Regions from separate parts of the Homo sapiens genome. Here all the other regions are reported to be linked to region 1. Evidence: microRNA targets listed by miRTarBase, many of them from high-throughput screens and not tested one by one. Region 1 holds a microRNA gene; each other region holds the end of a gene's coding sequence.
What was found. The annotated mature microRNA hsa-miR-3941 reads UUACACACAACUGAGGAUCAUA and lies in region 1 at 1,168-1,189, shown strand. An mRNA with a match to its seed (bases 2 to 7 or 8) in the 3' UTR can be bound and repressed. Matches are read on the target gene's strand: a 7mer-m8 pairs with bases 2 to 8, a 7mer-A1 pairs with bases 2 to 7 and ends in A, and an 8mer does both.

Region 2: the mRNA of FAM177A1 is a reported target of hsa-miR-3941. Seed matches in the 3' UTR shown: 7mer-m8 at 1,315-1,321.
Region 3: the mRNA of MUC15 is a reported target of hsa-miR-3941. Seed matches in the 3' UTR shown: 8mer at 1,792-1,799.

What each region holds. Positions count from the first base shown.
Region 1 is chr10:122,415,857-122,419,124 of GRCh38, forward strand. MIR3941 (microRNA 3941) reads left to right here and starts at 1,109; the gene lies at 1,109-1,211. PLEKHA1 (pleckstrin homology domain containing A1) reads left to right here. Exons shown (of 12, transcript NM_001001974.4): 7 at 3-146; 8 at 2,044-2,112.
Region 2 is chr14:35,080,900-35,083,899 of GRCh38, reverse strand. FAM177A1 (family with sequence similarity 177 member A1) reads right to left here. Exons shown (of 5, transcript NM_173607.5): 5 at 522-2,878. The coding sequence ends at 2,672. LOC101927178 (a long non-coding RNA gene) reads right to left here and starts at 2,819. Exons shown (of 5, transcript NR_110415.1): 1 at 2,341-2,819.
Region 3 is chr11:26,558,633-26,561,632 of GRCh38, reverse strand. MUC15 (mucin 15, cell surface associated) reads left to right here. Exons shown (of 5, transcript NM_001135091.2): 5 at 408-2,601. The coding sequence ends at 568. ANO3 (anoctamin 3) reads right to left here. Exons shown (of 27, transcript NM_031418.4): 14 at 1,854-1,914. Among named protein-coding and RNA genes, the nearest start is that of MUC15, 12 kb to the left of the region's middle.

The DNA of each region.
Region 1 (3,268 bases):
AGAAAGAAGAAGTAAATGAATGTGGTGAAAGTATTGACAGAAATAATCTGAAACGGTCACAAAGCCATCTTCCTTACTTTACTCCTAAACCACCTCAAGATAGTGCGGTTATCAAAGCTGGATATTGTGTAAAACAAGGAGCAGTGGTGAGTAGCTTAACAAAATACATGAAATAATGAAAAAGGATTACGTTCTAGCAAACTCAAATTAACATGGAAATTGTTTGCTTTATTTTATGAAAGACCCAAAGTGAGAGACCGGCATGCTGAGGAGAGTCAGGAGATAAAATAGGGGATATTCTCTGTTTATAATTCAATGCTGTTATTTGCTTGGTTTGCAGGGGGCCAGGAAAGTTAATGCCCATTACCACTGACTTTCAGTTTAAATGAGCTTTCCTAACAGTTTAATGTTTTAGAAAGTGTTTCTATTCATCTTTACTCATACTCAGGAGTGGGTCAGGGAAAGAGAGCTGTTGTGGGGAGATGGCAGGCCAGCGGCAGGAGAAGGAGTGGTGCCTAGGAGGTCTCTTCCTTGTTTAGGCATTGGCCTGACCTCCGTGGTAAGCTCTCTGACCTTGGGCTACTTACTTAACCTCTCAGGCCCTCAGTTTCTGTCTTAAGGAATATCATATAAAACCTACCATCTAGGGTTTTGTTTTGTTTTGTTTTTGTTTTTTAAGAGATGTAAATAAGAAAGGTGTGTTTCCCTTTGCACAGCACCTGGTACTTAGTAAAAGCTGTTATGGGTTAGCCCAGGTATTCCCATATAATCAGTTCCATGATGAATTTTTTGCAAGAGCAAGTAAATTTACCAATATTTCTAAGGTTGCAACATACCTTAGTATCTAAGCCATTCTTTCTATGTGAACTAAATCTTTAGAATTTCATGAGAAAATTAACTTTAAAGTTTGAAAATGTTTTTTAAGTCTGTGAGTAAAGAAATACTTAAAATTATTTTGGTGGTTCTGTTTGACTTCTCATCACTTTTTGGCAACTCTTAATTTTTTTAGGGCAGCCAGGGGAATGTCCTTTCACCTGTTTGACCTGCTTTAGGCTGAGGAAAATGATGGTGAGGGCAGGGGTTTCTTACTGTACAATGTCTGCAGGTAGAGTCAGAATTCTCATCAGGCTGTGATGCTCAGTTGTGTGTAGATTGAAAGCCCTAATTTTACACACAACTGAGGATCATAGCCTGATGGTTCCTTTTTGTTTTACTCTTAAGTCCAAAATACCAGTCAGAGATATTTAAGTGCTTCTGCAAAAACTGTTATTTTATTGACAAAAAATATTTGTACAAAATAGGTTTACTTTATTAAATATTTAGTGCTTTACTACTATGTATAAAGTACTTGTGGAAGAATTCATATGTTTTTACAGATGGAGAAACTTGATGTGGTTTAATAACATTTCCTGTGTTTGCTCTTTACATGGGGTTGGCGGGGGCGAGGAGTAGGAGGAAGGGGAAGTGCTTTTAAAAAAAAAAAAAGTTTCAACATTAAAAATATGAAATAGGCCAGGCATGGTGGCTCACGCCTGTAATCCCAGCATTTTGGGAGGCCAAGGTGGGCGGATCACCTGAGGTCAGGAGTTTGAGACCAGCCTGACTAACATGGTGAAACCCTGTCTCTACTAAAAATACAAAAATTAGCTGGGCATAGTGATGGGAGCCTGTAATCCCAGCTACTCGAGAGGCTGATGCAGGAGAATTGCTTGAACCCAGAAGGCAGAGGCAGTGAGCCGAGATCGCGCCATTGCACTCCAGCCTGGGTGACAGAGCAAGACTCTGTCTCAAAAAAAAAAAAAAAAAACACATAAAATCATACAATAAAAGATGAAAGCCAGGCACCAGAAATTGAATTAGGAATTCAAAGCCTGGGTAGCTAGAGAGGGATGAGGTTTAATTTATCGCATCTCTAAGGGAAGTAATGAGATTTTTCACTGCTTGGCATGTCTGATTGTGGGTTCATATCAGGGTAATTAAGTGGTGACTAACATTTGACATTCTTAGAAACACAAGTCTTATGTCTGTGTTCATCTCTGGTAGATGAAAAACTGGAAGAGAAGATATTTTCAATTGGATGAAAACACAATAGGCTACTTCAAATCTGAACTGGTATGTTGTTACGTCATAAATGTTGCTATAAGAATGTTTGAAAAGTGTTGCAATGTAGTGATTATATATAATTTCTTGTACTGTTCTGTAGTTTCAGAATAAGTCTAGTTTTTAGAGGTAAATATAGTTTATTTGGTTGTGATGCTTTTGGTTAATGATATTTTTCTTAAATACATTTTTAAGTAAAAAGATCCTATCTTCAAAGCAGCATTCCACCTTGAAAGATCTGAAGATCTCAGAATCCTCTAGTCTATAAATTTCCTCTAAAGGGGCTGTCCTCTTGGGGGGTTAGCCCCACGTGGAGTAGGGAGAGAAGGGCATCCACATGGGGAAGGGGTGGTGGCAGAGATGGGAGAATGGTCACATACACAGTGATTTATAAAATCAGGAACTATATTAAGTATAATAGAAGCCAAGTCTTTTCAGAGAAACAATACTTTTTGGTGAATGAATGTATATCTGTATATATGATGAGGAATGAGATATTTACATAGTTTCAAAGTACCTATCTACTAAAATAGGTATTAAGTATTGTACAAGGGGAAAAAGAGTAACATTACAGTGAGGAAAGTGGTGTAAAGAATTCTGTCTGTAAAAGTCAATATTTAACCCTCTGTATTTCTTTCTCTTGAGATTTTCTTTACCTATTTCACATTGACTCATAAATCACTTCACATAAGATGTTTTTATCTTCCCTGAAGGTAGAATCAGAAATTGAAATTCCCTCTTCGCCTTGTTTGAGTTGCATCCTTATTTAAAATATTGTAGGGTGATCTGAGTCCTGAAATAGCTTATTGGAGACATTGAATGCAATTCTGTAGTATAAATGTCTATCCTACGTCTTCTTTTTGTATGGGATCTTTGAGAAGGGAACTTATACTTTGTTTGAATGAAGTCACCAGAACAGCATTGTCCATTAGAACTTTCTGCACAAATGGAAATGTGCCGTATCTGTATTGTCCAAGGGCACTAGCTACATGTAGCTGTTGAGTGCTGGAAATGTGGCTAGTGTGACTGAGGAACTGACTTAATTTCATTTTAATTAATTTATATTTACATCATTACACACAATGGCCACTGTATTGGCCAGCAGAGCACTAGTGTATAGGAAGGGGATATTTTAAGATTCACCTCAGGAGTCAGCTCTTCTGGGAAG
Region 2 (3,000 bases), not on the chromosome of region 1:
AAGGATTTTTGTTAAAGAATTTATGTTAATTCAGGATAAAGACTTCAGTTATACATTACATTTAGTTTTTATGAGATGCTGAAAGATTAGAAGAAGGTAAATATGAACTATGATCCAGAAGGAACTGGAATTCTGTTTTTTTTTTTTTTTTTGGAGACGAGTCTTGCTGTGTCGCCCAGGCTGGAGTACAATGGTGCAAACTCCATTCACTGCAACCTCCGCCTCCCAGGCTCAAGTGACTCTCCTGCCTCAGCCTCCCGAGCAGCTAGGATTACAAGCACCTGCTACCATGCCCGGCTAATTTTTGTATTTTTAGTAGAAATCCATCTCTACTAATTCACCATGTTGGCCAGGTTGGTCTCGGACTCCTGACCTAGTGATCCGCCCACCTTGGCCTCCCAAAGTGCTGGGACTACAGGCGTGGGCCACCGTGCCCAGCTGGAACTGGAATTCTTAAAAGGACTGAAAAGGAGATAGGAAAAAGTGAGTGAAAGAGGCTTAAAGTAAGACAAACCATTGAATACATTTATGGGAAATTTTATAGTTTGCATAAACAAAGTATAAACTTAAGGCACAGTGAATAACTATATTGATAAACATAAACTAGCCACTATTGGACAAGTAGCAAAAGTAAAATTCAAGAAACAAAACCTTCATAAGTCACTACTTCCTTTTGTTACAATCATAAAATTTTCTGGGTAAACTCTAGATACTAGTACCTCTAGGGAGACAGGATTCAGAAGATCACTTTTAGACACACCTATCTTCACTTGATAACCAAATAAATATCTGTGAGTGAGAGGTACTATCTCGAATGAAGTTAAAAACAAATTAGAAGGAAAAGGTCAGGTTAGCATGTTTTAGAACTATTGGTAAACTATAATTCATGGGACATTATATAATCAAAAGATTAATATTTTAAGCACTAAGTTATAAAGGGTTTACACCCATGAATAAAAAGATTACCATCACTTACTATGAACCACCATTCCATGAATCCATGTAGCTGAACACTCCTAATGAAAAGTTTAATTATCCTTCAACCTGTAGTTGAAGAACTCAGTTCATGTTCATTGACAGATTTCCATTACAGACCCACTATATTGATGTTACTTTCTTTGACACTATATTTTATATAGATATATTAAAATTGAAAACTTAATGCTGTTTAGAAGGCTATTAATATAACTATTAATTTCTGAAAGCTTTGAGTTTCTGAAAAGGCTTTTAAGATCAAAATTTCTGAAACACTCCACACATTCTTCCTCACCCACATTTAATTATAAATCAATGTTATACTGATAAAAGGTTCTATACACACATTTAGAGATATATGTGTGTGTGTGTGTGTCTGTGTGTGTGTATATATATATACTTTTTTCCCCCCAAGATGGAGTCTCACTCTGTCGCCCAGGCTGGAGTGCAGTGGTGCAATCTTGGCTCACTGCAACCTCCACCTCCCTGGTTCAAGTGATTCTCCTGCCTCAGCCTCCCGAGCAGCTGGGATTACAGACGTGCACCACCACGCCTGGCTAATTTTTGTATTTTTGTAGAGACGGGGTTTCACTACGTTGGCCAGGCTGGTCTCAAACTCCTGACCTCAAGTAATCTGCCCACTTCAGCCTCCCAAAGTGCTGGGATTACAGGTGTGAGCACCGTACCTGGCCATATTTAGGAATATTTTCAAAATTAGCTTCACAATATATACATTTGTAAGGTTTACAAATAACCAAGTAGGTAGAGGAGTGGCCAACCAGATTCAAGTAAACTGTCCAGTCTTCACTGTTGCTACTTCTAAATGATGAATGACGGGTAATTTCATTAGGCTATCATTGCACCTTATACAATATCTAATTGCTCCTGATGGATTAAATCTATACCTGTCCCACTATCCCCCAATCCCCTCCAAACCACTTTTCTATAGGATTAACGCTGAACCGATAACATAACCAGGATGCCACATGGATATTCACTAGGTATTAACATTAATAAATCTATTCTATAAGTAGTGTTTTAATATTATGTTCAAAGCTAGTTATTTGAGTCCTGAAAAAGAATACAAGATTAAGTAAGTGGCTTGCATTAAAAAATGGAAGCCTATCTTAATATCTGGTGTTATAAATACAGATTCTTACATAAAACAGTTATTCTCAATGAAAGAAAATTCAAAGTGCTTCCATCTTGCTCCTTTTATTATATGGTGAAGCATCCTTAGTGTGAAATTAATGGTTAGATATATAAATGCATGGCATAACATGAGAAAATCTAGGAGAAAATATCCTCATTTTAATCTAAGACTATGGAATTATCAATTCCAATTAGACTTAATCAGCAACTTACCTTTTTCAAAAAAAGCAAATGCACAAATAGGCTTGATAATTTAACTCTTCTTAACTATTAAGGCTCTAGGATGTCCTTAACTTTTTTAAAAGATCATTTTAAAACCAAAGCACTAATTTCTATACACAGTAAAAACAGTACAAATATCTGAATTTCAGATCTGGCTTTTGCTAGATAGATCCTAAAAATGAAGAAAACATTTTCCCTTTCCAGATACTTTAATAATTTAAAATATAAATAATTGTATTAAGTCCCACTGAATAAAGAATGTGAAAGTTTTTGTATTAAAAAAAAAAAACTTAAGAGTTTGAAGCTTGATAGTCATTTCATTTTATGGTGGGACAGAGACTGGATTTTGCTTGCTTTCCATAATTACTTCACTGTCTCCCTCCATTTCAAAATTGACATTCACAAATGAGCTGGATATCACTGTCTCTGGTTGATCTGTCTGAACAATGGAATCAGTCTGCAATTTATTCTGTTGATATTGTTTTTCTGCTTCTTCAGACATCCTGTTTTCTTCTTCTTCTTCTTCTTCCTAAAAAAAAGGAGCAATATCAAGAATAGTTGAAATACGAAAGTCCAAAAGGTATATAGTGCTGTTTTCCCCACTGTCAGCTTATGTTTAAAAAAAAAAAAAAAAAAAAGTGTCATGTTCAA
Region 3 (3,000 bases), not on the chromosome of region 1:
ATTAATTTAAAAATTATTGACTTCACTTAAAAAAATTTTACACCAGAAGTGACAAATTCTGAACATGTTGACAAGGCTTTGAAATCACAAGATTCAAAAGTCAATGAGGTATGGTCTACACTTCTTTATGCAAGGTATTGATATACTATACTGGTCTCTTCTTTAGTTCCTTTACTTTGAGTCCATCAACAGTAAAATTTTGGAAGTAAAACTGTACTCTTAGTCTTATAAAAAATGAAGCTTGAAAAACATCTACTTATTTAAAATTTTAAAACTAAAATCTAAAAAGCCCATATAAAAATATATTTATTTTCTCATCTAGAATAATTCCTATAACTTGGTGGATGCCTGAACATGAATCTTTCAGAGTATCACTGTGAAACAGTATTATTTTGTTACTTTTTTAGTTCTGCGATTAGACAATGCACCGGAACCTTATGATGTGAGTTTTGGGAATTCTAGCTACTACAATCCAACTTTGAATGATTCAGCCATGCCAGAAAGTGAAGAAAATGCACGTGATGGCATTCCTATGGATGACATACCTCCACTTCGTACTTCTGTATAGAACTAACAGCAAAAAGGCGTTAAACAGCAAGTGTCATCTACATCCTAGCCTTTTGACAAATTCATCTTTCAAAAGGTTACACAAAATTACTGTCACGTGGATTTTGTCAAGGAGAATCATAAAAGCAGGAGACCAGTAGCAGAAATGTAGACAGGATGTATCATCCAAAGGTTTTCTTTCTTACAATTTTTGGCCATCCTGAGGCATTTACTAAGTAGCCTTAATTTGTATTTTAGTAGTATTTTCTTAGTAGAAAATATTTGTGGAATCAGATAAAACTAAAAGATTTCACCATTACAGCCCTGCCTCATAACTAAATAATAAAAATTATTCCACCAAAAAATTCTAAAACAATGAAGATGACTCTTTACTGCTCTGCCTGAAGCCCTAGTACCATAATTCAAGATTGCATTTTCTTAAATGAAAATTGAAAGGGTGCTTTTTAAAGAAAATTTGACTTAAAGCTAAAAAGAGGACATAGCCCAGAGTTTCTGTTATTGGGAAATTGAGGCAATAGAAATGACAGACCTGTATTCTAGTACGTTATAATTTTCTAGATCAGCACACACATGATCAGCCCACTGAGTTATGAAGCTGACAATGACTGCATTCAACGGGGCCATGGCAGGAAAGCTGACCCTACCCAGGAAAGTAATAGCTTCTTTAAAAGTCTTCAAAGGTTTTGGGAATTTTAACTTGTCTTAATATATCTTAGGCTTCAATTATTTGGGTGCCTTAAAAACTCAATGAGAATCATGGTAAAAAAAAAAAGTTAACCAAAGAATATACCTGTACATAATTTGTACAGTTTTAAGTTGTTAGATAGGAACTGGATTTCTTATGTATTAGACATTATTGCTCAATCATAATGGAATAGATTCTGCATCCCTAAATGTATGAACCATAAGGTTAAAAAAGATGAATGGAAATATCAAACAACTTTTTACTGAGCATCAGTTTCATAATCAATAATATAAGAAGATTAATTTGGATTCTAGTATGTTTCAGTTTGTTTTTAATTACCACCTTCCTTTGGTAGAAAAAATATGTTCCTTGATGTAGGAAAGTCTAGGTTTTAGAGATTAGAGGATGAGATCAAGAGTTAAATTCCTAAAGAAGCACTGAATATATGAAGAGAGCAAACAAATCAAGTACCAACCTAGAGGCTTTATTTTTGAATTGATTCATGGTGTGTGTGTGTGTGTGTGTGTGTGTGTGTGTGTGTGTGTAACACAGAAACAGCTTCAGAAAATAAGGGATAGAAAGTAATGAAGAAAGTACTTACCCCATATTGCCATAAAAATAGCAAAGAAGACTGTCCCTCCATTATCGAACAAATATGTCACCTGAGTAGAAAACAAACAGAAATATTAGTCATGCAAATTGATTATAATAAGCCAGTGAATACTGTTTGCACTCAGGTACTATGATTTTTTCTCAAATAGAATCATATTATTTTATAGTACAGAAATATTATATATGAATTCCTTTCATGGGTCTTGCAACAATTTCACATGATTTTTCTCATGGGGAGAGGTGAAGAAACAACATTAGCCCTCTTCTCTCCTCTCTTGATTCCCTTTATACCCCACCATCATTTCTGATTATAAATAATTCTACCATTCTATGGAAGTATTTGTGGGTCACAGATTGTCAAACTACTTAATGAAAGTTGTATGAAATTAGTTTTTCAGGTGAGGCATTCCTAGTTGCAATTCCTGTTAGCAAAACTTCTAGGAGTGGGGAAGTTGGAAAATGCAGGATTCTTCCAGTGAGCCAGCATTTCCCATAGCTAACCCTATTCTCTTAGTCTTTCAAAATGTAGAATGGGTCCAATAATGGCTATAAGATGTAATAAATCCCATCTTAATTTGTTTTAAAAGTTTCATAAATCACTGAACACTTATGAAACAAAGTGTTTTTTAATCAGATATCAACTGAAACTTCATAAAGGATGCATAGTTTTATAATGTTATTGAATCAAATTTTAAGGCTTGTATTGTTTGATTTTAATAAAGTATAAATTCAATTTACCTTTGCTTGTTTGCATTTGCATAATGCCCTCAGTATATATGTAACTTAGTGAGAGAAATTAAACTAACACAGTGAAGGCAAAAAATGTCTGGCCAGCACAAAAATTCCATAGAAACGATAGAGAAAATAGGGCATTGTCCTCACAGGAGGGTGAGGACAATCATGGGTTAAAGAACAGTATTATAAGGAAAGTTGGAATGGAATGGTGTCCTCCTTGTTCAATCTGACATCCAGAGGGTGCTCAATGGGAGCATTAAAACAACAGTAATACGTATTTCAGTTGTAACATCTGGAACACACTGCAAAATATATGTAAAGCAAGTCATCATAAAATGTATTTTCCTATAATGTGGCATTATTGATAATATCATCATAGAAAAGATGCGCTCCCTTTGAAG